2 separate regions of the Homo sapiens genome follow, and region 1 is linked to region 2. The links come from fine-mapping of genetic effects on gene expression. A gene starts in region 2. The other region holds a variant in brackets. All regions are shown on one strand. Distances are between the middles of the regions. Region 1 overlaps ARMC2 (armadillo repeat containing 2). Region 2 holds the start of OSTM1 (osteoclastogenesis associated transmembrane protein 1).

Region 1 (12,391 bases), 880 kb after region 2:
CCTGATTCAGCTCTCAGGCACGAGAAGTTTGTAACCATATTTTAAACAGGGTATTTTGATTAATTTTCTGGTTAATAGAGAGTTCGGATTTTAAGTATATTTACATCCCCTTCCATTTCAACCCATTCTTACAAATTTTTCTAAAATGTGTTCCTTTACTTAGTGGAAGCAGTTCCCTCCTAAGTGGAGTCTGCTGAACATAGTTTATTCTTTCTGTGACAGCTTGATATTGTTTCTTCCCCACAGTCAACATTATGCACATGAGTTATTTTAAGGTACGGGAGGAAGGGTGTGGGAGTCGGGGAGGAATGTGTTCACTGTGGCTGGCCATGGGCAGAGAGTAATGTGAGGTAGCAAAGAAGTGGTTGCGTGGGGCCAGATGATGCATTAGATGCTGGCTTTGACATTCATTTAATAGGCAGTAGATGTTTTTGAGCAAAGGGAAGAGCTGTGCTTTAAGAAGTGGTGTTAGGGTTGATGGCAGAGGGAGGAGCCTGGAAAGGGCCTCTGACAACAGTCTACAGGCAGATTAGCCCAGGTCGGCATGGGCAGGAGGGAGCTGGGGAACATTTTGAGATGACAGAGTCGAGGAGACTTGGTGACTGCTTGGTGAGGGGATGAGATAGAGAGGAATCAGAGATGCTGGGGCTGGGGGACTGGGAAGATGATGATGATTAGCAATGAGGAGTTGGGCTGAAGGTGGTTTTGGAAACCATCTGTGTGTACAGAGATGATTGTTCAAGTCCTGCCTCTTCTCTTCACCAGTGTTTGACTTTGGGCTTACTTAATGAGTCTCCTGAAGCCTCAGTTTCAACATCTCTAAATAGGGGTAAAAATGTCTTTCATTGGCTTTAGGCCAATGTCTCTCCCATGGAAAGTAACATGCAACAGCTACTGCCAATGCTGCCACCATTGGAACTGGACATAGACCATCCTGGTGAGCAGTGCCCTGTTCCTGGTTTTATTCCAGTTAAAGTAATTTCATTCACAGGCTTGTGGGGCCCATTCAGATTGAGTAACTTGTTTGCTCATTGGGGCATAACATCTGCGAAACTAATGACAATATCCCTCAGGCTCTAACTGGAAAGCTCTGTTGAGGTCAGTCTTCTTCCTCTAAGTGTATCTGTTTGTCTAAGCTCTGGTTGGCCGTAGCTGTTGCTAGGCTGATTCTGTTTTAAGCAAAATTAGAAAGTCGATATGAACTGGTTATACTAGACTGCCTTCTTTAGGAAAAAAAAAAAAAGCTCTCTCTTGATTCATCTTCAGTTTGCTATTTCAAAATCACATAGTTATGATATGAATATGCAACATTGTGTTAAATTTAATAAAAATGCTATAAAAATGGAGTGTTAATTTATAGATGATTCTCAGATATTGTCTAAGAATAAAGGAGAGAATGTGTGCCTCAAAGGAGAGCTGCATATTGATGAAATCCTTTTCCGCTGTGGAATTGGTGCTCTCTCTAAATAGATGATTTTGGCCTTGGTTTAATTTTTACAAATCTTTATAGAATATTAAGTAATATTTTATAGACTTGAGATGGCTCGGGCTGTGGAACAGTAGATAATCTCTCCATGATCCTGCCCAACGCAGACCTTGGTTCAGTAGGGAGGACCTTGGAGTGCACGGTTTGGGAGCAGAGGCCACCCATGGTGAGGAGAGGGGCCCTAGAAAGCTGACTTGCTCAGCCTTCTTCAGGATTCCAGATGAGTCAAGACAAGCCCTGGCATGGAGATAAGAAAACACTACCTCTGCTGACCTCCTGTGAGATGGCTTCTATTTTGGCCTCTTCCAGGATCCCTAGGTCCATGTAGAATATATTTAAGAAGGGAGGGGAAAAAAAGAAAAGAAAAAGTGCCTTAGCTAACCCTGAAAAACAGGACAAAAACAGTAAGCAGAGATAGCAGTTGCTGGAAGTTTGGTGCTGCAGACGGCGCAATCTGCCATCCCATTTGTTGATCTCGCATGCCATGCTTCAGTTGGCACCGCGGCTGCCAGGAACCACCCCCTCCTTTTCCATCTGAAGCAGGAAAAGCAGTATTATAACAGTGTTAACTCTTCCTGCCCTACAGCCTAGAGCTTCTTCTTCTGCACTGGAGGCTTACTAATCTCGGCCACGTTAGGACCTACAGAGATGACAGAATCGAAGAATTTTAGAAGAGGAAGGGGCCTGAGGGAATTTTTAGAAAAAGAAAAGCAGCACTTAGTCTTCCCAGATTAGACTGCATGTGACAGTGGGGAGAGGTCATTTGAATTTTGAAGAATGATGACCACTAAGGAAATCTATTTTTTACCAGGATCTGATCTAAATCCTGGCAAATCAACACGGATAGCTGGAGGTGGGACAGGGCTGGAGAAGCCTACTGAGCTGGACTCAGAGAAAAGCAAGACCAGGTAGATGGAGGTGAAACGGCAAGGCCTAGGAAGAAAAAAAACAATCCAGCACCCTTAGAAGATGCCATGACATTTTAGGAGGTAAATTGTTTAGTCCTGGTAACAATTTAGGGTACAAAATGCAAATATTAATTAAATAAGCAATCACTTAAAATCACTCATAATGCCTTTCCTGTCTTGTTTAACATGCTTTTATGGAAATGGGAGAAGAGAGCCCAATTCCAGGAACATGGTGAAGTCCAAAACTTATTAACATCACTGTTATCAAATGTGCGAGGGAGATGGCGGTTTAGATTGTAAAAGATACTGTGAATAGCTTTATTCAGGTTAAAGAAATGGAAGTTATCATTTTTAGTGAATTAGTTAATTTGTATATATAAATGCTTAGGACAATGCCTGGCACATCATGAGTACTAATAAGTACTGTGTGTTAGTTGCTGCTGTTACTGTGCTGTTATTGTTATTAATTATTAGGATTTTCAGAACTAGAATTCATATAGTCTTTCAGCAGGAAACATGTATCAAAGTTCACACAAAAATTCTGTTTATAGTCCTCAGCTTAGAAAATATCAGATGAAGTTCTTCTTTAAGATGCTTAATTCTTGGAAATACCCTCTGTCCTGGTTGGAAAACTGATTTTCTGCTACTCTGTTGGGTCTGATCAGGGTGGAGGAGAAGCTACCAACTCAGAGCCCAGGGCAGGGCCTTTGCCACCAGGCATTACTTGAAGTAACCCTCTGTTTTATGTGAAATGGGATTCAAGTATTATAATCAAATTGTGTGTGCTTGTTTTAGACTTAAGGCCCATAAATATCCCATAGCTTCTTTAGGGAACAGTCAGGTAATTAAAGAATGAGAAGATGACCCCTGGCCCAGGAAGGAGATAGTCCCAGATGCTCTCTCAAACTAATCCTCTTCAAACTAAAAACAGGCCGGGCACAGTGGCTCACGCCTGTAATTCCAGCACTTTGAGAGGCCGAGGTGGGTGGATCACTTGAGGTCAGGAGTTTGAGGCCAGCCTAGCCAACATGGTGAAACCGCGTCTCTACTAAAAGTACAAAAATTAGCCAAGTTTGATGGTGCATGCCTGTAATCCCAGCTACTTGGGAGGCTGAGACAGAAGAATCACTTGAACACAGGATGCGGAGGTTGCTGTGAGCTGAGATTGCACCACTACACTCTAGCCTGGGCGACAGAGCAATACTCTGTCTCAAAAACAAAAACAAAAAAAACAAACAAACTTAGAACCATTTGACCCAGAAATCCCATTATTGGGTATATACCCAAAGGAATATAAATAAATCATTCTATCATAAAGACACATGCATACATTTGTTGATTGTAGCACTATTCACAATAGCAAAGGCATGGAATCAACGTAAATGTCTATCAATGGTGGATTGGATAAAGACCATGTAGTACATATACATCATGGAATACCATGCGGCCATAAAAAAGAGTGAGATCATGTCCTTTGCAGAAACATGGATAGAGCAGGAGGCCATTATCCTTAGCAAACTAACGCAAGAACAGAAAACCAAATACCACAAGTTCTCACTTATAAGTGGGAGCTAAACGATGAGAACTCATGGACACAAAGAAGGGGACAACAGACACTGGGACCTACTTGAGGGTGGAGGGTGGGAGAAGGAAGAGGATCAGGAAAAATAACTATTGGATAGTAAGCTTAGTACCTGGGTGACGAAATAATCTGCATACCAAAGCCCCATGACACAAGATTACCCATGTAACAAAAGTGCTCATGTACCCCTGAGCCTAAAAAGTTAAAAAAAGAGAGAGACTTGTCTTCTGCTGCCTGCCCAACCCCATGCTCCCTTCCACATATCTCTGCATCTCACAGCTTCCAAGGTTGAACTCAGATTCTTTCATGATAACTCTGCTGAACCTGACACTGTTCCCAGAGCATCCTCTTTTCAAAACTCTGGTGAGACTACTAGGCCTGTGCCACTGAGTTTATTGCTATTAGTTAGCATTTTATTGATAGGACATGAAAAGAGTTCACAGAAATGCCCGAATCATTGCTCAGTACAATTTGTGCTTTGCCTGTTGTATCTCATGTGATCTCACAGTAAGAATTTTGTCTCCATTTTGCAAACAAGTTAATGGATGTACAGAGAGGCCAAGCATCTGTGTGAGTCCAGCCTGCCTGGCTGTGACCTGGGACTCATAATCCCCTTTCACGTCTCGCTTCTTCCTTTGCCGTTTTAGTCTTTGCCGTTTCCCCACATATGTTAGCCTTGTCTTCTCAGTAGGTGAGAAGCTCTTCATAGCACTGACTTTCAGACTTGGTTATGTGTGTGTATTCCTAGGCCCTGGCATTAAGAACTTACCTGAGGACTAACATTCTATTTCCCGGGGTGGAGTCAGGAGCAGGGTCTCCTAATTGGACGACCACTATGGCTGGTTGAATGCTGTGAGTTGAAATGTCTCCGAAAATGAACTCTCTCCTGGACCATCTCCAGTTTTTGCTGTAGCATTAGCTGCTGTCCTTCCTTAATGTTTGGCAAATGGTTTCCGGTTGTGCAAGCAGCAGCCTCGCTTCTTCTCTGCCAGTGAGTGTCAGGGAAAACTTTTGGATTTTTTAGCAAGAACAAGCAGGAACAAGTTGGTATTGGCAGAGAAGGCCTAGGTAAATCCAAAAGTTGTACTCTGCCCCCAATCCTCCCCAGTTTCCTGGCCACACCCGACGCCCCTCACGGGGCCCCTGGCGTCGCACCTGGACATGCGCTCCTCGATGAAAACGTGCCCAGCCCTTGGCCCTTTGTCCCCTTTTCTTAAGGCTACTGCTAACTACTGATCTGATCAACAAAGTCACGTTTATGGTCGTCCCTTCTGGTGACATATTTGCTTTTAAAAGGAGATAATTCTTTAACTGTTCTGCAAGAAGGCAAAGGAGGAGAAAAAGTACACGACACCCTGTGTGGGAAGCAGATGTTGGTGTAGAAAGGACACTAGAGTCTGGGTCACCCTGGAATCAAATCCTGACCTTACCCTTCACCAGCCATGTGACCTGGGCAGCTTCTCCAGGCCCTAGTTTCTTGTCTATAAAATGGCATAGTGCCTGGCACTGTATATATAGATATAGATATAATACCATCCAGGCCAGTTGTAGCCCTCCAATGAGTATTCCTTTAAAATCTCCTCCTCCCAGGTCACCTCCATTGACACCCATGGGGAAGGCTGATCTGGACTCATATGTGGACATTGTTGTCAAACTAAAAACACAGTGATTTTTGTATCTTGTTTAGTTTTAAAATGTTCCCAGCTTAGGGTTTGTAAAAACATTTTAAAATTGTGAAATATAGCCTATATACAGAAAAGTGCATAAAACGGGTATGCACAATTTAGCAAGTAATTATAAAGGTGTCACTCATGTAACCACCACCCTGGGTAAGAATTGGTAGGTACTGCCTTAAAGTAGTGTAGCTACGTAACACAGC[G/A]CTTCTCCACAGGGGGCAATTTTGGCTGTCACATCTGGAGAGGTGTTGTCATCTAGTGCGTGGAGGCCAGGTGTGCTGCCAAACGCTCTACAATGCACAGGACACCTCCCCACAACAAAGAATTATCCAGTCCCAAGTGTCAATCCTGCCCAAATTCAAAAACACCATACTTCAGCAGGAGACGAAATTTTAAGGAAAGATTTGGAATTTCAAGAAACCGGCTATTGTCAAAACTTAGATTTACATGACTCATTTTTAGTAATGCTGTCCCACTCAACTAATTGTTCTCTGAAGGAGATAAAGAAAGGCGAGCCAGAATTTAAGATGAAGGATCTGAAGGTAATAGACGTTGCTGATCACATCAATCAGTTTGTATTCTTTCATTGCTGCCAAGTGCTTTTAATCTCCTTTGTCACTTTGCACTGATCTTGAGAATCAAATACTGTACAAGTGAGCCGAAGCCAGACGTGTTCCATTTTACTATTAATGCAATTGTGAATAAATTAAATACTATCTTCTTCCCCACGATGTGTTCCAGCCCCCTTTGCACTTTTGACTCTGTCTTTCGTTTATTGCAGGATTTAGTCGTCCGTGTTGTTTTTATTCTTGGCAACCTGACGGCAAAAAATAACCAGGCTCGTGAACAATTTTCCAAAGAGAAAGGGAGCATCCAAACTCTGCTGTCATTATTCCAGACGTTCCATCAGCTGGATCTGCATTCCCAGAAGCCGGTGGGCCAACGAGGCGAGCAGCACAGGGCGCAGAGGCCGCCGTCAGAGGCAGAGGACGTGCTCATCAAGCTGACTCGTGTGCTGGCCAACATTGCCATCCACCCGGGCGTGGGCCCGGTGCTGGCCGCCAACCCGGGGATAGTGGGCCTGCTCCTGACCACGCTGGGTGAGAACCGCAGCCCACTGGCTGCAGCAGACACAACCAACTTTCCCGCGGCCCAAAGACAGTTCTGTGTCTGTGGTGTGATGAGGATTTTATTATCACAAGTGGCTCCCTATGAGAAAGTCTTAGCTGTATGAAGGAAATTCCCTCTTCTGTTCAGAACTGTCTTAAAAGTAATCCAGATTATTAGAAAAGGAAAAGAAAACATAGTAATAGAGATTATTACTAAAACCCACCAAATCGTACACTTTAAAAGGGTGAATTTTATGGTTTGTGAATTACATTGCAATTTTTTAAAATTATACTCAGCAAATGAAGAAAACTTGGCTAAACTAACCACAAAGAGTTTAAAATTCCAAATATTTGAGTTTAAAATCCCAAATCCCAAATATTGTGGGCAATCCACATGATTAAAATTAATTCCTTTTTTTTCCTCTTCAGGTTCTTACATTATTTGTAATTACAGTCTCCAGTCATTCAAGTCCTGTTCATTCCCCTTGTATTAGCTCAGATTGCCATAACAAAATACCACAGATTGGGCAACTTTGTCAGAAATTTATTTCTTATGCTTCTGGAGGCTGAGAAATTCAAGATCAAGGTGCCAGACTGTTCAGCTCCTGGTGAGGGCTCTTCCTCCTGGCCTGCAGACAGCCACCTACTCACTGTGTGCTCACATGGCTATTCCTTGGTGCAAGCACTTGTGGGGTAGGGGACAGTCTGTCTCTCCCCCTCCTCTTTTTATAAAGTCACCAATCCTATCATATTAGGACCCTACCCTTATGGGCTCTGTAACCTGCTGTATCTCTTCAAAGTCTTATCTCCAAATACAAGCATATTGGGAGTAGAGCTTCAACATATGAATTTTGTTGGGCACACAATTCAGTCCATGGCAACCCCTATACTTTTTAGGTCTGTCATCTCCCACAAGCACTTCTGCCTGCTAGTGTGTAGGAAAATTAACTGCAACCCAAGATTGATTAATCTTGCCACTATTAGGTGGGCCTGGTGGCTCAGGCCTGTAATCCCAGCACTTTGAGAGGCTGAGGTGGGTGGATCACAAGGTCAGGAGTTTAAGACCAGCCTGGCCAACATGGTGAAACCCCTTTCTCTACTAAAATACGAAAATTAGCCAGGCATGGTAGCATTCACCTATAATCCCAGCTACTCGGGAGGCTGAGGCAGGAGAATCGCTTGAACTCAGGAGACGGAGGGCCGCAGTGGGCCGAGATCGTGCCACTGCATTCCAGCCTAGGTGACACAGTGAGACTCTGTCTCCAGAAAAAAAATTAGCTACTACTAACCATACTTGTGGAAAATGTTGTTGTTTTGGAAGGAAGCTAATGTCTGACACAAATGATGTTTTGGAGGAGCAATCTGTGAACTCCCTGGCCTCCCTCGCCCCCACTAGTCAACTCAAGAGCCATTTCCTAAGCTCTTTCTGGGTAACCAGTTCTGTGCTATACATTCAGTTTCATTTATTCTGCTCAGGCTGCCATAACAAAATCCCGTAAACTGGGGAGCTTCAACAACAGACATGTATTTTCTCACAGTTCTGGAAACTGGAAGTCTGAGACCGAGATGCCGGCAGGGTCAGGGTCTGGTGCAGGCTCCCCTTCCTGGCATGTGGTTGATTGCCCTCTCACTGGGTCCTCATGTGCTGAAGAGAGCACACTCTGGGGTCCCTTCTACTTCTTGTAAGGGTACCAGCTCCACCGGATGAGGGCCCCACCCTTCTGACCTCATTTAACCTTTATCACTTCCCCACAGGACCTAGCTCCAAATACAGTCACATTGAAGGGATAGGGCTTTTACATGTGCATTCTGGGGGATACCAACATTCAGTTTAGAACAAGGTTTTAAAAATGGAGGCTGGTATGTGCTTTCAAGGAATTCGGCCTATATGGTGGAGGGACATTGAGTGCACAGACAAGAACCCCAGTTTCTGAGAAGGGCAGAAGCTAGGCATACACAGCTAAGGGACGGGTGGCAGAGCCCGGCTGCGGGCATGTGAGTGACAAGGCCGTGCTTCATTATGGAGCTTTACGGTTGAAAACGCATTTTCATATCTGTTACCTCACAACAATGTCAGGGCACGTTTTTGTTATTTTCATCATTTCACAGATGAGGAAACGGGCTCAGTGAGATATAGTGACTTTCACAGGTCACAAAGTTAGCAAGTGGCAAAGTCACCGGGCCCCTGACCTGTGCTTCCCCGCACTCCACATCACGTGTCACCTGTCTTGAGAAACGACTCTTCACTTCTGATTGGGATCTGCACCATGACTTACCACTTCCATGTAAATAACTCAAAAATCTCTGTGTTTAGGCTTGAACTCTTTTCCAAGCTGCTGACTGCACATTAAGCCACGTGGAAGAAAATGCACGTAGCTGTGAGAGAAATTCAGTTTCTGTTCCAACCTCAAAACGTTCAGCATTTGCTCTGTAGCATGCCCATGTCTGCTGAAGCTCTTTCCCCTTCCTGAGATCCACTCACCACACTGAGCAGGGCTTCTCAGCCCAGGACCAGGGATGGGACTGCTGCAGAATCAGCTGTGGGACTCTTTAAAATACCCTTTTTGGTTTCTGGCCCCTGCCCAGAAACTGCCTCTGTAAAATGCCATTAGAGTCTTGAAATCTGCCTTTTAATGCCTCCTTTGCCCCCAGGTGAGCCTTTTGCCCATTAAGTGTTGAGACCCAGTGCTTCAGGGAACCATGTTAGCTTTTCTGGCTCCTCAGGATCTAGCAGAAGCCTGAAACCGACTGGGCGAATTCTCATCTGTTGCAGAATTAATCCCTTTACCTGACTGTGGCTGCCCAGGAAGGGCCTGAGGACCAGACCTCAAACACCTGGACTGGGGGCACATGGCTGTGAACAGCCAAGGAGTAGAGTTATGCATGATTCATTTTCCCACAGTTGTTAATATTCACATATAAAGTGAAAAAACTCCTCATCTTATAAATATTTTATGAGCTTAGAAATTACATTTCTACCTATAAAGGAAGAGTGAATAACTTGCTTTTGACTCAAAAGAAAGTGATGCTTTGGGGTAGGAGAAAGAGGCAAGAGGCTGGGCACGGTGGTTCGCGCCTATAATCCCAGCACTTTGGGAAGCCAAGGCAGGCAGATTGCTTGAGGCCAGGGATTCCGGACCAGACTGGGCAACATGGCAAAACCCTGTCTCTATTAAAAAAAAAAAAAAAAATTAGCTGAGTGTGGTGGGACACGCCTGTGATCTCAGCTACTCAGGAGGCTGAGGTGGGAGAATTACCTGAGCCCAGGAAGTCAAGGCTGCAGTGAGCCATGCTTACACCACTGCACTCTGGCCTGGGCAACAGAGTGAGACCCTGTCTCCAAGAAAAAGTCCGGGCGCAGTGGCTCACACCTGTCATCCCAGCACTTTGGGAGGCTGAGGTGGGCAGATCACTTGAGGTCAGGAGTTCAAGACCAGCCTGGCCAACATGGCAAAACCCCATCTCTACTAAAAATACAAACATTAGCCAGGCATGGTGGCACGTGCCTGTAGTCCTAGCTACTCAGGAGGCTGAGGCAGGAGGATCTCTTGAACCCAGGAGGTGGAGGTTGCAGTGAGCCAAGATCGTACTGTTGCACTCCAGCATGGGCGACAGAGTGAGACTCTCTCTCTAAAGCTCCCTGGCTGCTCCTGATACAGGTGGTCAAGGGCCTCCCTGTGAGAAATGTTTTAGTCTCTGTATTAGAGCCTGGTACCATATGAGGTTGAGCAGAAGTGAAGAAACCCTGCTCTCCTGTGATGGGTCAGGCCTCTTGCCTACTATGCCTTAGGCAGTTGTTTGGGCAAGCAGGTGATCCCTTCTCTATTCTCTCCTGAAAGACTTTATCTCCAAATAAAAGTTGATAGAAGGGCAAAAGTCACCCCTGACAGGGGGTCACCCCCCTCCACCTTCCCCTTACACAGCTCGACTCCTGGGTGAGTTTCTAAGCCCTGCTAAGCCCTTTCTACACTGGTCTCTGTGGATTTCCTACCTGTTTTGTCTGTGTCGGTGTGGAGTGGTGACCACATTCCAGGAAAGGCCTCCTGCCCCCTCTGACAGGCCTGGCAGCTTAGAGCAACGCAGGGCCAGTGCTGGGCTGTGACTGTGACTATAGAAAGGGCCTGCCCGTGGTTTGGTTGTGCCCACTGAACTCAGAGTTGCTGCTGTCCTGTTTACCCTCAGAGCTGAGCACTCCTCCCAGCCTGATGGCTCCTGTGGCATGGCCCCCTTCCCTAGTCATGTGGGAAGGGCATCCCTTAGGCTCTTTTCTTCCTACCTCCCTCTAGCCCTGCACCCTTCACAAGGAGTTACTTGTACCCCAGGACTTGCCTAGAGAGGTCAGCCTCATTGCAGAGGGTCTTTTAAAAATCAATAATGTTTCTAGTAAGAACTGACCCTCTCAGTATGCCACCAGACTCAGAGATTTGCTGACTTAGTGGCAAGTCCAAATTCCAGATTGTCTCATATCCGTGAGTGAATTATAGAGGGTAGGATGGTTGTCATGGTTTTTTGGAAGCAGTCTATTGCCCCAACTAGCTCCAATGGGAACTCAGCAACCCTGAGTCCTTGGCTTCCGCAGCGTTCTGTGGAAAGAGTAGGATAGTAGGGGTCAAGTACACCTGGATTTAGATGTGTGCTCTGTGAAGTGAGGTGAGGTATTGAACTTCTCTAAACCTCAGTGTTCTCATCTGACCCCTAAATTCATCTATGAAGTCCTAACCCCCATGTGATGGTATTTGGAGATGGGGCCTTTGGGAGATAATTAGGTTTAGATAAGGCCATGATGTGGGGACCTCATGCTGGAGTTAGGGCCCTTACAAGAAGAGACACCAGAGCCTGACCATGCAGCCTCCCTGATCTTGGACTTCCAGCCTCCGTAACTGTGAGAAAATAAATTCCTGTTGGTTCAAGCCACCCAGTTTATGGTATTTTATTATGACAGGCCAAGGTGACTGAGACAGATGCACCTTTCGAGAATGAATTATTGTGGGTGTGAATTCTTGTAAGTGCATGTAAAACTTATTAGCTGACTTTTGAGGGTTACATGCATGGTAAAGTGCCTAGTGCTGTTTATGATAAATGCTTAGGAGCTGTGAGTACCTACCCTCTAGTTCCAGATACCAGACACCATTCCTGCCGCCCAAATGTGTGGTCCTTCGGGAGGTCAGACAATAAGAGCTACCCTGCATTTTCTGGACAAGCTAACGAATTCTCCTACCAAGGCAAGAGAAATAAAACAGATCCCCAAACACTGCCCAAGACCTAGTGTCATCAGTCTGGGGCTGGAGGAAACTAGGGCTGTAGGCCCTTTGCCCAAGAGTTAGACATTCACCTGAGCTGCTCCCCATGAGCCGTCATTCTGGATGGCCCATCTGTTCATGTAATAAGCACTTACTTAGCACCCACTATGTGCCATGCACTCATTTAAGCCCTTGAATGCATTTAAACTTTGTAACAACTCTATAATGTAGGTGCAATGATCATGCTTACTTTACCATCAAGGAAACTGAGGCCCAAGGAGGTTAAATAATTTGAGTAAGGTCACACGGCCAGTGAGTGGAAGCACAGGGTTCTGGCTCCAGAGTCCTGGCCAAAGCAAGAGGGAATAATTTGGAGGTCCTGTGTCCCTT
Region 2 (12,391 bases):
AAGGTGGGGAAGGCACCTGTCCTTTTCAAGGCCCATCTCTCTGAGGATGCCCTAGATCCCATCTATCCTGCCTTTTCTGGAAACTGACCTTGTCTGCTTCCCACTCCCTCCTACAGAATCTTCACTTTCTCTAAAGGACCCTTACTATCAACATTTAAACATGTCCAGCTCTCTCCCATCTTGGACAAGGAAGAAGGGAAGGCAGGACAGAGGAATGGAGGGACAGGGGAATGGAAAGAAATGATAGAAAGTCAGCCTGGCACCGTGGCTCACGCCTGTATCCCAATACTTTGGGAGGCCGAGGCAGGCAGATCACCTAAGGTCAGGAGTTCGAGACCAGTCCAGCCAACCTGGTGAAACCCCATCTCTACTAAAAGTATAAAATTAGCTGGGTGTGGTGGTGCACACCCATAGTCCCAGCTACTCAGGAGGCTGAGGCTGGAGAATCGCTTGAACCTGGGATGGTGGAGGTTGCAGTGAGCCGAGATTGTGCCATGCACTCCAGCTTGGTTGACAGAGCGAGCCTCTGTCTAAAAAAAAAAAAAAAAAAAAAAATAGAGAAAGAGAAATGAAAGAAAGTCTCTGAGTCCCACATTGCTCTTTAGTGACTTCTCTTTCTTATCTCCCCATCAAGGCCAAACTCTTCAGCAGTTGTCTAGGTTCACTCTTCCCATGTCCTCATCTTCCAATCCCTGTTCAACCCACTCTGATCTCACTTTCGTACCCAAGGACTCCATCAAATTCACTCTTGTTAGTGTCACCAATACTGCCAGTGTTGACAGATATATCTCCAATTCTCTCAGCAGGATTTGACACAAATAACCACCCCTTCCCTTTTCCTTGATTTACAGGGCATCATGCTCTCCTCATTCTTCTTTATCTCTCCAATTCTTCCTTCTCAGTCACCTTTGAGAGTTTACCCTCTATTTAATCTTAAACTCTTAGTGTTCCTACTCATTCTTCAGGTATGTTCACCCATGTCATAATTTCAAATGCCATTTTTATGCCGACACTCCCAAAGGTGTTATCTCTAGTCCAGTCCTCTAGATGTGTATATTCAACCACATAGGCAATCAATATATCCACTTAGAAAGCTCATAAACACCTCAAAATCAACACGTTCAAAACTGAGTTAATGATCTTCGCCCACTAAACAGACTCCTCCCTCCAGCTCAGTAAATGACAACCCTATTCATTAAGCTGCTCTTATTAAAACCCTGGAAATCATCACTACCTTTTCCTTACTCCCCACATTCAATTAACCTCCAAGCCTGTAATTTCTGCCTCCTAAGTATCTCTGAAATCCACCCATTTCTCCACATCATGATGGCCCCCACATAGCCTAGACACCACTGTCTCTCACACCACTGCAACAGTCTCCTAATTCATCTCCCCACATATCTTCTTCCCCTACCCTCCCCAGCCCCTACCCTCTCCATTTTCTGTCACATAGCCAGCATAGCCTTTTAAAGTACAAATCTGATTATGTCATTCCACAGAATTAAACCTTTCACTAACGTCATACTGCTTTAAAATCAAAGTCTAAAATCCTTAACATACCCTACAAGGCCCACATGACCTGGCACCTGTGTACTTCCTTAGGCTCAGACCACGGGTTTCCTTCTTGCTCACTGTGCTGTGTTCTAGACCTCAGATACACCACAAACTCCTTCCCATCTCAGTCTTCATGCCTGCTATTTCTTTACATGTATACCTTCCCTCCCCTGCCTGTGTTCTCTCAAATTGTAGGTGTCTGCTTTAATCACTGACCATTCTACCTACCCCCCAGTCATACTCAAGATCAGCACTCTTGTCATATGCATTGGTAGCATCTGGGTTTTTTAATCAGCAACACTTATCACACATGAATTAAATAATTATTTGTATAATGAGATGCTTAATGTCTGTCTTCAGACTACAAGCTCTGCTCATTCATGCTATATCCCTAGTAGCTACCACAACCTGTACATAATAGGTACTCAATAATTTTTTTGAATGAATGCAGAAGAAATATTACATTTTCTGATCTCTAATGAAAGACACAGATTATTACACTATGTTCTGGCTTTCTCCCTATAGTCCTCAGAATTCATTATTTAATAATCTACAGTAAAAGTATATTGAATACTCACCAAATACATAACCCAAATGACTAGCACTTCACAAAGATACACAGATACATAGATAGATAGAGATAGATAGGTAGATGGATGGATCTATAGATCTAAATTTTAAACACTATCTAAATTTTAAACAAACCAAGTAGAATAGGACAGAGCCTACCAATTCAGAATCTGAGGGGGCAAAAGCATCCTCAGGACCATTCCGATAATGCTGAATCACAATGAAACTATGTCCCTATCAGTTTAAACTAAAAGGAGAAAGTATGACTCTAAGGAAGAGGGAATCCCTCAGTTCTATCATTCAGGTTTCAGAAATCACTGTATTTTTCACCTTGAGATAATGAAACTATATGCGATCCCTCTCCCAGAAATTCTAAAAGGAAGTGACAAGAACCTAGGATTCTTATCAGGGAATTCTATTATAGTTAAACTAATTATATTGCTGTACCACATAAATAGCTTACTAGTTTCTGGCTTTGATTCTTTTTTTCTCCTTATTATACTCCTCTCCTCTCTCAATCAATCCATGTCCATTCACACTAAAGAAGGGTAGAAAGAATGCCTTGAGATTCAGCTTGTAGGTTTCCCCTGATGAACCAGCCTTGCTCTGTTCCGTCATTTTTTTTTTCTTTTTTTGAGATGGAGTCTTGCTCTGTCACCCAGGCTGGAGTGCAGTGGTGCAAACTTGGTTCACTGAAACCTCAGCCTCCCAGGCTCAAGTGATTCTCCCACCTCAGCCTCCTGAGTAGCTGGGATTACAGGCACATGCCACTACTCCTGGCTAATTTTTTATATTTTTAGTAGAGACGGGGTTTTGCCATGTTGGCTAGGCTGGTCTCAAACTCCTGGCCTCAAGCGATCCACCTGCCTCGGCTTCCCAAAGTGCTGGGATTACAGGCATGAGCCACTGCATCTGGCTCTGTTCCCTCCTTTAACTTGGCATTCCTTTCACTCTTTTGTTCTAAATTGCTATGGTACAATTTATAACACTCACTGATATTTTCCTATTTCCCCATATAAGGTATTTTATTTCCCCTAACTATACTGATAGTTTGAGGCCTGAATCTTACCCTTCTTTTCCTTCTTATCCTTTTACCAGCCCAATATTCAAGAATAGTAGGTGCTTGCTAAAAACTGATTTCAATAAAAGACTGAGTCTGAGTCAAACAAAATACATTACACTGGATAGGCTGGGCGTGGTGGCTCACGCCTGTAATCCCAGCACTCTGGGAGGCCGAGCCGGGTGGACCACCTGAGGTCAGGAGTTTGAGACCAGCCTGGCCAACATAGTGAAACCCTGTCTCTACTAAAAATACAAAAATTAGCCAGGCGTGGTGGTGGGCGCCTGTAATCCCAGCTACTTGGGAGGCTGAGGCAGGAGAATCGCTTGAACCTGGGAGGCGAAGGTTGCAGTGAGCCGAGATCCCGCCATTGCACTCCAGCCTGGGTAACAAGAGGGAAACTCCGTCTCAAAAAAAAAAAAAAAGGGCTGGGTGTGGTGGCTCACACCTGTAATCCCAGCACTTTGGGAGGTCGAGGTGTGCAGATCACGAGGTCAGGAGATTGAGACCATCCTGGCTAACACGGTGAAACCCCGTCTTTACTAAAAATATAAAAAATCAGCCGGGCGTGGTGGCGGGCGCCTGTAGTCCCAGCTGCTTGGGAGGCTAAGGCAGGAGAATGGCATGAACCTGGGAGGTGGAGCTTGCAGTGAGCTGAGATTATGCCACTGCACTCCAGCCTGGGCAACAGAGCAAGACTCTGTCTCAAAAAAAAAAGAAAAAGAAAAGAAAATATACTACACTGGATAAATAAACCTCCCCAAGAGACAACTAATTCCTTCAAGTTCACTCATGACACATTTTTCCATAGGTTTTTGTTTTGTTTTGTTTTGGTTTTTTTTTGCAACGGAGTCTTACTCTGTCCCCCAGGTTGGAGAGTGGTGGCACTATCTTGGCTCACTGCAACCTCCACCTCCCGGGTTCAAGCAATTCTCCTGCCTCAGCCTCCTGAGTAGCTGCGCACCACCACACCCGGCTAATTTTTTTTTTTTTTTTTTTTTTTTGTATTTTTAGTAGAGGCAGGGTTTCACCATGTTGGCCAGGCTGGTCTCGAACTCCTGGCCTCAGGTGATCTGCCTGCCTTGGCCTCCCAAAGTGCTGGGATTACAGACACGAGCCACCACACCTGGCCTCATAAGTTCATTATTATACATGATGGTTCAACTCCCAAACCAGTCCATATAGCCTTTTAAATCTATAAAGTACCTCAGAACTGTAGATGTCACACTTTTGAGCTAATGAATCATATCCAGCTCTACTGGGGAAATAAGGCGAGCCGAGACCAAGGCCTAGGATGAGTTGGAGAGAAAATACAAAAAAAGTTTCCCTGCCTCTTTTCACCTGTTTATCCACTTCCTTTCACATCAGGGTGAGTTGAGCTGGGTACCCAGGTTGCTGGTAGAATCTGAGGGAAAGGAAGGGGGTTTCTACAACTCCCCCACTGGGAAGCCTCCTTTGGGTAGTGGGGAATTCATATGGAAATTCACATGCAGATTGGGTGATGCCCATAATACTGCACCCTAGAGTTTGAGGTGCTATTTTTAGCCTCTCTTTAATTCCACAGTACCTACACACATGAGAAAAGCATTTGCTGCCTTCAAAGACCCAAACTTTGCATCATGATCCCTGGCCATTCTGCCCACAATAGCCCTTGTTCTTTAGAGTAAATGGAACCCTAAAACAACTCATCTTAACCACTCAACACTGAATATGATGCTATATCGTATCCTGCTGTAGTTGACAGGGACATGTCTTGGGTACTTTATTTTAAAGTGATAGTAAGATATATATTCCTTGCTATACCCAATGGAAGTGTGCCTGGAAAATACCGCATGTAAGCCTGAATTTATTTACCTCGAAAATATGTCCTTGGCCAGGTGTGGTGGCTCACACCTGTAATCCCAAATCTTTGGGAGGCTGAGGTGGGTGGATTACTTGAGGCCAGGAGTTCGAGAACAGCCTGGTCAACATGGTGAAACCTGTCTCTACTAAAAATACAATAATTAGTTAGGTGTGGCAGTGCACATCTGTAGTTCCAGCTACTCAGGAAGCTGAGGCAGGAGAATCACTTGAACCCAGGAGGCGGAGATTGCAGTGAGCCGAGATGACACCACTGAACTCCATCCAGCCTGGGCAACAGAGCAAGACCTTGTCTCAGAAAAAAAAGAAAAAAGAAAAAAAAAAAAACATGCTCTTTACAGAGAGATTGACCACAGAATTTATTTAATGCAAATAAATTCCCCAGTTATGTAAAATGACAGATTTTTATTTTATTTTTATTTATTTATTTATTGTGAGATGGAGTCTCACTCTGTTGCCCAGGAAGGAGTGCAGTAGTGCAATCTTGGCTCACCCCAACCTTGGCCTTCCAGGCTCAAGTGATTCTTCTGCCTCAGCTTCCCGAGTAGCTGGAACTACAGACGTGTACCGCAATTCTTCTGCCTCAGCTTCCAGAGCAGCTGGGACTACAGGCACGTGCCACCACGCCCGGATAATTTTTGTATTTTTAGTAGAGACGGGGGTTTCACCATGTTGGCCACGCTAGTCTCCAACTCCTGACCTCAGGTGATCCCCCTGCCTCAGCCTCCCAAAGTGCTGGGATTACAGGCATGAGCCACCGCACACAGCCATGACAGATTTATTTTAAATAACAGGCTGACTTAAAGCAGGATCCAACTAGGTACAAATTTATATTTAGTGCAACTATAAACAAGTTTAGACAAGTTTAAATTTATGGAATAATTCCAACCACATTTTCATGAGACTACTTGCTGTCCCCGTAATACAAGAGGAACTTTCTCATTCTCCAATCCCAATGTTATTCCTCATGTTTTTCCTTTACCAAGCATATCCGGCCCACACCTCGTGACTCCCACCAACCCTGACACTCTAATCTTTTCCTAGTCTAAACTTTATAAAGTACTTAGGAGCAGGAATTGTCTGTTTTTCTTTTTAAAATTAAGTGCCTCACAGCAGCTACCACACACCTAGAGAACCCTTAAGGTATGAAGAATGAAGAGCAGTCTTACAATTTCTTAAAAATTTACCTCCCATTTACTTAGAGGTATTACTATGTGTTGTTTTCTAAAACCTCCTTTTATCCCCATTTTACAGATTAGTAAACAGGCACAGAGAATGTAAGTAACTTGCCCATAGTATACCGCTAATAAGCAGAGTGGAACTGGAGTCCTGGCCGCTAGCTAGCTCCAGACTGTTCACATCACTAAGATGAAGTCACAGGCAATATCTCTTTTAATTCTTCCAACAGCCGCATTAGGCAGATGTTCTTTCCACTTTATAGAGGAGGAAACTAAGGTTCTGAGAAGATAATTAATCCAAGGTTACATAGTTAGAAGTTGGTGGACATGAACATTTCTGGCTACAAAGCTCAAATTTCTAACCACTACCAGTGTCTCCACCCCACTTGTTTCAGAAAAGGATCCTTCCTGGCAACTCCAGGTGAAGATGAGAAGAAGCCGTGGTGGAGTGGGTGGAGGAAGAGCAAGAGGGTTGGGGAATCAGGACCCCCAAGAAAACCAATCACACCTATATGAACCAAAGATGTCCAACAGCATTCTTGGAAGCAAAAACCCAAATCCCAAGCCCCATAATGCCACCCCCTTTTTCTGATGACCCAACTCTACAGACTCAGTCCAACCCCTTTTTCTTACTGTTGGGGAAACTGAGGCCCCCAGCGCTGACCATCATTACACCCTCCTCCTTTCCCAACTCTCCTGAGCCACAGTCCCGGACGTGGTCCTGTACCCACCCCCGCGGCTCGGCTGATGTTGTCCATCTTGCTGACGACCTGTTGGAAGAGGGGGTAGCAGGTCTGACAGAGGCGCACGGGCCGGGCGCTGCGCACCAGACACCCTGTCAGCTCTGCGCTGCTGTTGGCGAAGTCCAGCAGGAGCTCCCGGCACTCAGGATCCAGATCCGGCAGGTCCGGGGGCAGCGACAGAGGCCCCAGCCCTCCACCCTGCAGGAGGGACAGGGACAAGTCCTCCACCTCCAGCAACTGCTGCTCCGACAGGAGGTCGTGGAAGACCCTGTGCGGACTGCTGCCGAAGGGGAGCGCGCCCAGGGCCAGCCCCGACCACAGCAGCAGCCCCAGCGGCAGCCACGGCGGCAACGAACACCTCCGCTGCGCGGCTGTCGGGCCCGGCTCCATCACCGGGCTCACACACCCCAGGGAGCCCACCGCCGCCTCTCCGCCCCCAGCCGGCACCGCGGACAGCCGCCGCTTCCGGTTTCCGCGAGCGCAGGCCGAGAGCCGGGTCACGAGGAGGGCGCGTCACGGCCCCGCCCCCTGCGCGCGGCGCCCCGCCCCATTGGCTGCCGGCTGCCTCCGGGCCGCAGGCCTTCGCGCGTGCGGGAGGGCGCCTACCCTGCGGCCGCGCGCTCTCCAGCCGGCGTTAGGCGCGGGGCGGGGCGGAGTGGTGCATTGGGGTATCCGTAGCCGAGGCTCGCCAGCCGGTGACCACGAGCACCCACCGCTTTGGACAATTGCATCTCGGGGGTCCTGACCCTTGAACGCCCAACCCTCTGGGAGTTCCGGGCGTCCTACAAGTTTCTTACCTCGCTGGACCGACGACGGCCTCCGCTGTGGAAATGGCCGTCGGCTGCGTTCGCAGAGAAACCCCGCTGGCCTGTGCCTCGGCAGATTTTCTGCATGGTGTTCCTTAGCGTAGTTTTTTCCTCATCCCATTTGGAGAGAGTAATAATGCCCGTTGGTTATTATAGGTGGTGGAGACTAGCGGTTTCCAAGCTTTTTGTTTTTGTTTTTAAAAAAACTCTCAACTGTCTGCCTCAGCGTTGTCAGAACTCTGTGAGATGAGGGAAATATTCTACATCTGCGTTATTAAGGCAGCCACTGGCCACATGTGTGGTGTTGAGCCGGCTGAGGAACTGAATTTTTAATTTAATTTAGGGCCGGCGCGGTGGCTCACGCCTGTAATCCCAGCACTTTGGGAGGCCGAGGCAGGCAGATCGCTTGAAGCCAGGAGTTGGAGACCAGCCTCGCCAACATGGCGAAACCCCGTATCTACTAAAAATACAAAAATTAGCCGCTGGGCGTGGTGGCGCAAGCCTGTAGTCCTAGGTTGAGCGGGGAGGATGGCTTGAGCCAGGAGGTCGAGGCTGCAGTGAGCCGAGATCGCGCCACTGTACCCCAGCCTGCACGACAAAGTGAGACTCCATCTCAAAAGTAAAAAGTATTTAACTTAAATGTAAGTAGCCACATCTGTGTAGTGGCAACTGTACTTGACGTAAGTCTGGTCCTACAGTGGCCAACAAGCAGGTTTGCTTGGAACTGAAGGGGTACCAGGGACGCAGCGCGTTCAGTGCTAAAGCCCAGGAAATCCTGGACAAACTGCTCAACTTGAAACTCCTATCCAGTTTCTGACATGCCCGAGGCAATAGCAGGGGACACTCTAAAAAGCGTCCTGATACCGTTGCCAGTCTGTAAAAAGAATTTAAGCTCATAACCTGGAAAACAGTTTTCTGACAAGTATCTGACCAACCAGGTTGGTAGAAAATTATTTCCGGGCTTTGTGTCATCCTGCTTTTCAGGGTTGTAATTTTTGCCTTGTAAATTGCAGAGCTGTTGCACTAAAGTCTACTTAGCTTAGGGTCCTAATTTATGTTTCTGAGGGTTCTTCAAAAACTTTTTTGTTGTTGTTGTGTATTTTGTTTGGTTTGGTTTTGAGACATAGTCTCGCTAGACTGCCCAGGATGGCCTCGAACTCCTAGGTTCAAGGGATCCTCCTGCCTCGGCCTGCCAAACAATTGGACTACAGGCACAGGCTGCTGTGCCCAGCCTGGGGGTTCTTATAGTTACTTTTTACCCCGTCTGTTTGGTTATTGTTTTATGTTCCTAAATTTGCTTGGGATAGCTAAATTTTGTTTCATTTTTGTTACTAAGAAACTGAATAGTAGGAAATTTGATTTGTGTAACAATAAACGTATTTCCAAAAGAGAAAATAAGTTGTCTTAAGTTTTGCAAAAGTCATCATGTAACTCTTAGGTCTTTCTATGTATTAGAATTATCTTTCTTTTAAATTCTTTCAAGCACCATCCTGTGTTGCAGGTGGATGTGTAAATTGTTAACTTCTATGGAAATCAATGTGCAGAACCAACAACCTTGCAAATGCACAAGCTCTTTGATGCAGCAAGTTCACAACCTTGTCATAGACACTTATTCATTACAATATTGTTTGTAGTGGTAAAAGGATGGCTTCAAAAAGCATGTTAAGGGGCCGGGCACGGTGACTCATGCCTGTAATCCCAGCACTTTGGGAGGCCGAGGCGGGCGGATCACCTGAAGTCAGGAGTTCGACACCAGCCTGGCCAACATGGTGAAACCCCGTCTCTACTAAAAATACAAAAATTAGCCGGGCATGGTGATGCATGCCTATAATCCCAGCTACTCAGGAGACTGAGGCAGGAGAATCTCTTGAACCTGGGAGGCAGAGGTTGCAGTAAGCCAGGATCACACCACTGTGCTCCTGCTCAAAAAAAAAAAAAAAAACTTAAGGAAATTACAGACACTTTCCCTCTTCCTTTCCTTTCCATTCCCGGAACAATTCAATCTTAAAGGTCAAGTAGAGCAAGATAGGCATCGGTGCTTGGTAGGAATGGGGTGTCAGAGGCCCAGAGAGAGGTGTCAGAGCATAGGTAAGCTGAAGAGGACAGTGGTGTGAGGGAGGGTGGCAGCATCAGCCTGATGCAGAGTATTGGGTTCTCAGTGGATAAGAAGGGTCTCCATGCAGAGGATTGGGCAGCAGTGACTGGGAGGTTGCTTACATTCAGAAGGATTGATGGAATCAGTAAATATATTAAGAATAATTGGAGTTCAGTTTCAGACTGTCAGAGAAGAAAGTTACAAATATGAAAAGAGAGAAATGAACTCTAATGTTGGATTAAAATTAGAAATAGTGCAAATTCATAGCTTAAAATACATAGTCATCCCTTGATACCAGCAGGGGAATGGTTTCAGGACCCCCCACAGATGCCAAAATCTTCAGATCCTCAAGTCCCTTACATAAAACACCATAGTATTTGCATATAACCTAACACATTTCCTTCCGTATACTCTTTTTCTTTTTTCTTACATGCTATTAAAGCATCCTCTTTATACTTTTAAATCATATCTAGATTACTTATAGTACCTAATACAATATACATGCTATGTAAATAGTGGTTATACTATGTTGGGTTTTTAATTTATATTATTTTTTATTGTTACTTTTTTTCTACTAGGAGATACTACTTTTTTAAAAATTATGGTAAAATATACATAACATAAAAGTTACCATTTTTAATGTACTTTCAGTGGCATGTTACTTTTTATTGTGGTTTTATTTTTCTCTTTTTTTGTAGAGATGGGATCTTCCTGTGTTGCCCAGACTGGTCTCAGACACCTGGGCTCCAGTGATCCTCCCACTTCAGCCTCCCAAAGTCCTGGGATTAGCAGTATGAGCCGCTGTACCCAGCCCTCAAATATTTTAGACCTGCAGTTGGTCGAATCCCAAGATGCAGAACCCATGCATACAGAGGGCCAACTATATATAGTATAGAAATAAATACAGATGTAAATTTATGTGTATACATTTTATATGTGTATGTACATATATGAATATATGGTATATGTATACATATATATGTACTTGTGTGGGTGTACTTCCTCTGGCTTTGTCCACTTAGAACACTTAGTAGCAAAGGTACCCCAGTGATAATGAGCATGCATAATGCCCAGATCTTGGATTTGAAGTATCATTCTCCACTAAAAGGAACCAAGGATCCTTGGAGAAATGGCTGATTCAGAAAAAGCACAAATTGAGACTGGATCATCTTGTGCCAGAAAGTAAGGAAGTGCTCAAAGAATAATGTTGGAAACATGTGAAGGGCATACAGAAACAGCTTGAATGGACTCCCGCTGGTCAAATCTGAGTCACTCTCAGCATTGAAATAATGATGGTTAACAAACTATAACCCATTACATAAAACCACAAGCTCATAGTGATCAATTTAAATAATAGATTGATAAGGACTAATACATTTACATATTTTCATAGATTCTCCCCACCAAATACTTATTAATTACAAATGGGGAAAAAGGAGTAAATTTACAGTGGAAAACCTTGTCCAGTCCTATGTTAATCAAATGATCAACATGAACATCATCATAATGGAACATATACAAGTTGTGTGCATCTGATAGGCTGCAATTAGAAGAATACAGTGTCAGTTCTGTTATATTCCTGCCAAAGATGCATAATCTGATTCTAATCATGAGGGAAGTGTCAGACAAATCAAATTAAAGTTCATTATATAAAATATCTCGACTATAATCTTCAAAAGTGTTACAGCTACAAAAGTCAAGGAAAGATTGAGGAACTGCACCTGACAGGACATTACTGGGACAACTAGCAAAATTTGAATAGGGTCTGAGAATTAGATGGTAGTTATGTACATTGCTGATGAGATTAATGATTATGAGAGAAGATTATATTCATCATGATACAATAGCCCCATAGTGTAAGAATAAGGAAAGGTCTTGTCTTGAATGTAAACCTGATTTAAAAAAAAAAAAAGTAATGCTATTGCCTAAATTCAGATCCTTTGCATCTCTTGTCTACGATATTGTAACAGCAAAAACTAGCAATCAAAGGGAAACGTCTGGAAAACCAGAAAAGAAGATGAGAAATTGACCTACGATGCTACCTCACATTCCTCATGTAAATTCAAAATGTTAATCAAGACTCTGTGAGACTTTCAAAAAAAATGTTTTCATGAGAAATTGTTAAGAAAAATTACCTCGAATTTGGAAATAAAGTAAAAAACAATCAGCATACTGGGGCATATTTTCTTATTCTTTCTTTGTCTTTTTCATATGGATTAATTAAAAAACCTTGTCTTTGAGCTCTGAAGTTCTTTCTTCTGCTTGTCAATTCTATTGCTGAGACTTTCCAGAACATTTTGCATTTCTACAATTTTTGCATCCATTGTTTCCTGAAGTTTTGATTGTTTTGTATTTATGCTATTTCACTGACGATTTCTCCCCTCATTTCTTGTATCATTTTTTATTTCCTTAAATTGGACTTTGCTTTTCTCTGGTGCCTCCTTGATTTTAGCTTAATAACTGACCTTCTGATTTCTTTTTCAGGTAAATCAGGGATTTCTTCTTGGTTTGGATCCATTGCTGGT

The links.
Region 1: its variant is fine-mapped to the expression of OSTM1 in B cells (Fairfax 2012, PIP 0.92).

The regions. Positions count from the first base shown.
Region 1 is chr6:108,946,600-108,958,990 of GRCh38, forward strand. It overlaps ARMC2 (armadillo repeat containing 2), which reads left to right. Exons shown (of 18, transcript NM_032131.6): 13 at 6,434-6,752. Among named protein-coding and RNA genes, the nearest start is that of ARMC2-AS1, 29 kb to the left of the region's middle. RefSeq lists an enhancer at 4,625-5,126. The variant G/A (reference allele first, on the strand shown) is at 5,856.
Region 2 is chr6:108,067,297-108,079,687 of GRCh38, forward strand. OSTM1 (osteoclastogenesis associated transmembrane protein 1) reads right to left here and starts at 7,445. Exons shown (of 6, transcript NM_014028.4): 1 at 6,954-7,445. The coding sequence starts at 7,355. RefSeq lists a silencer at 7,216-7,655.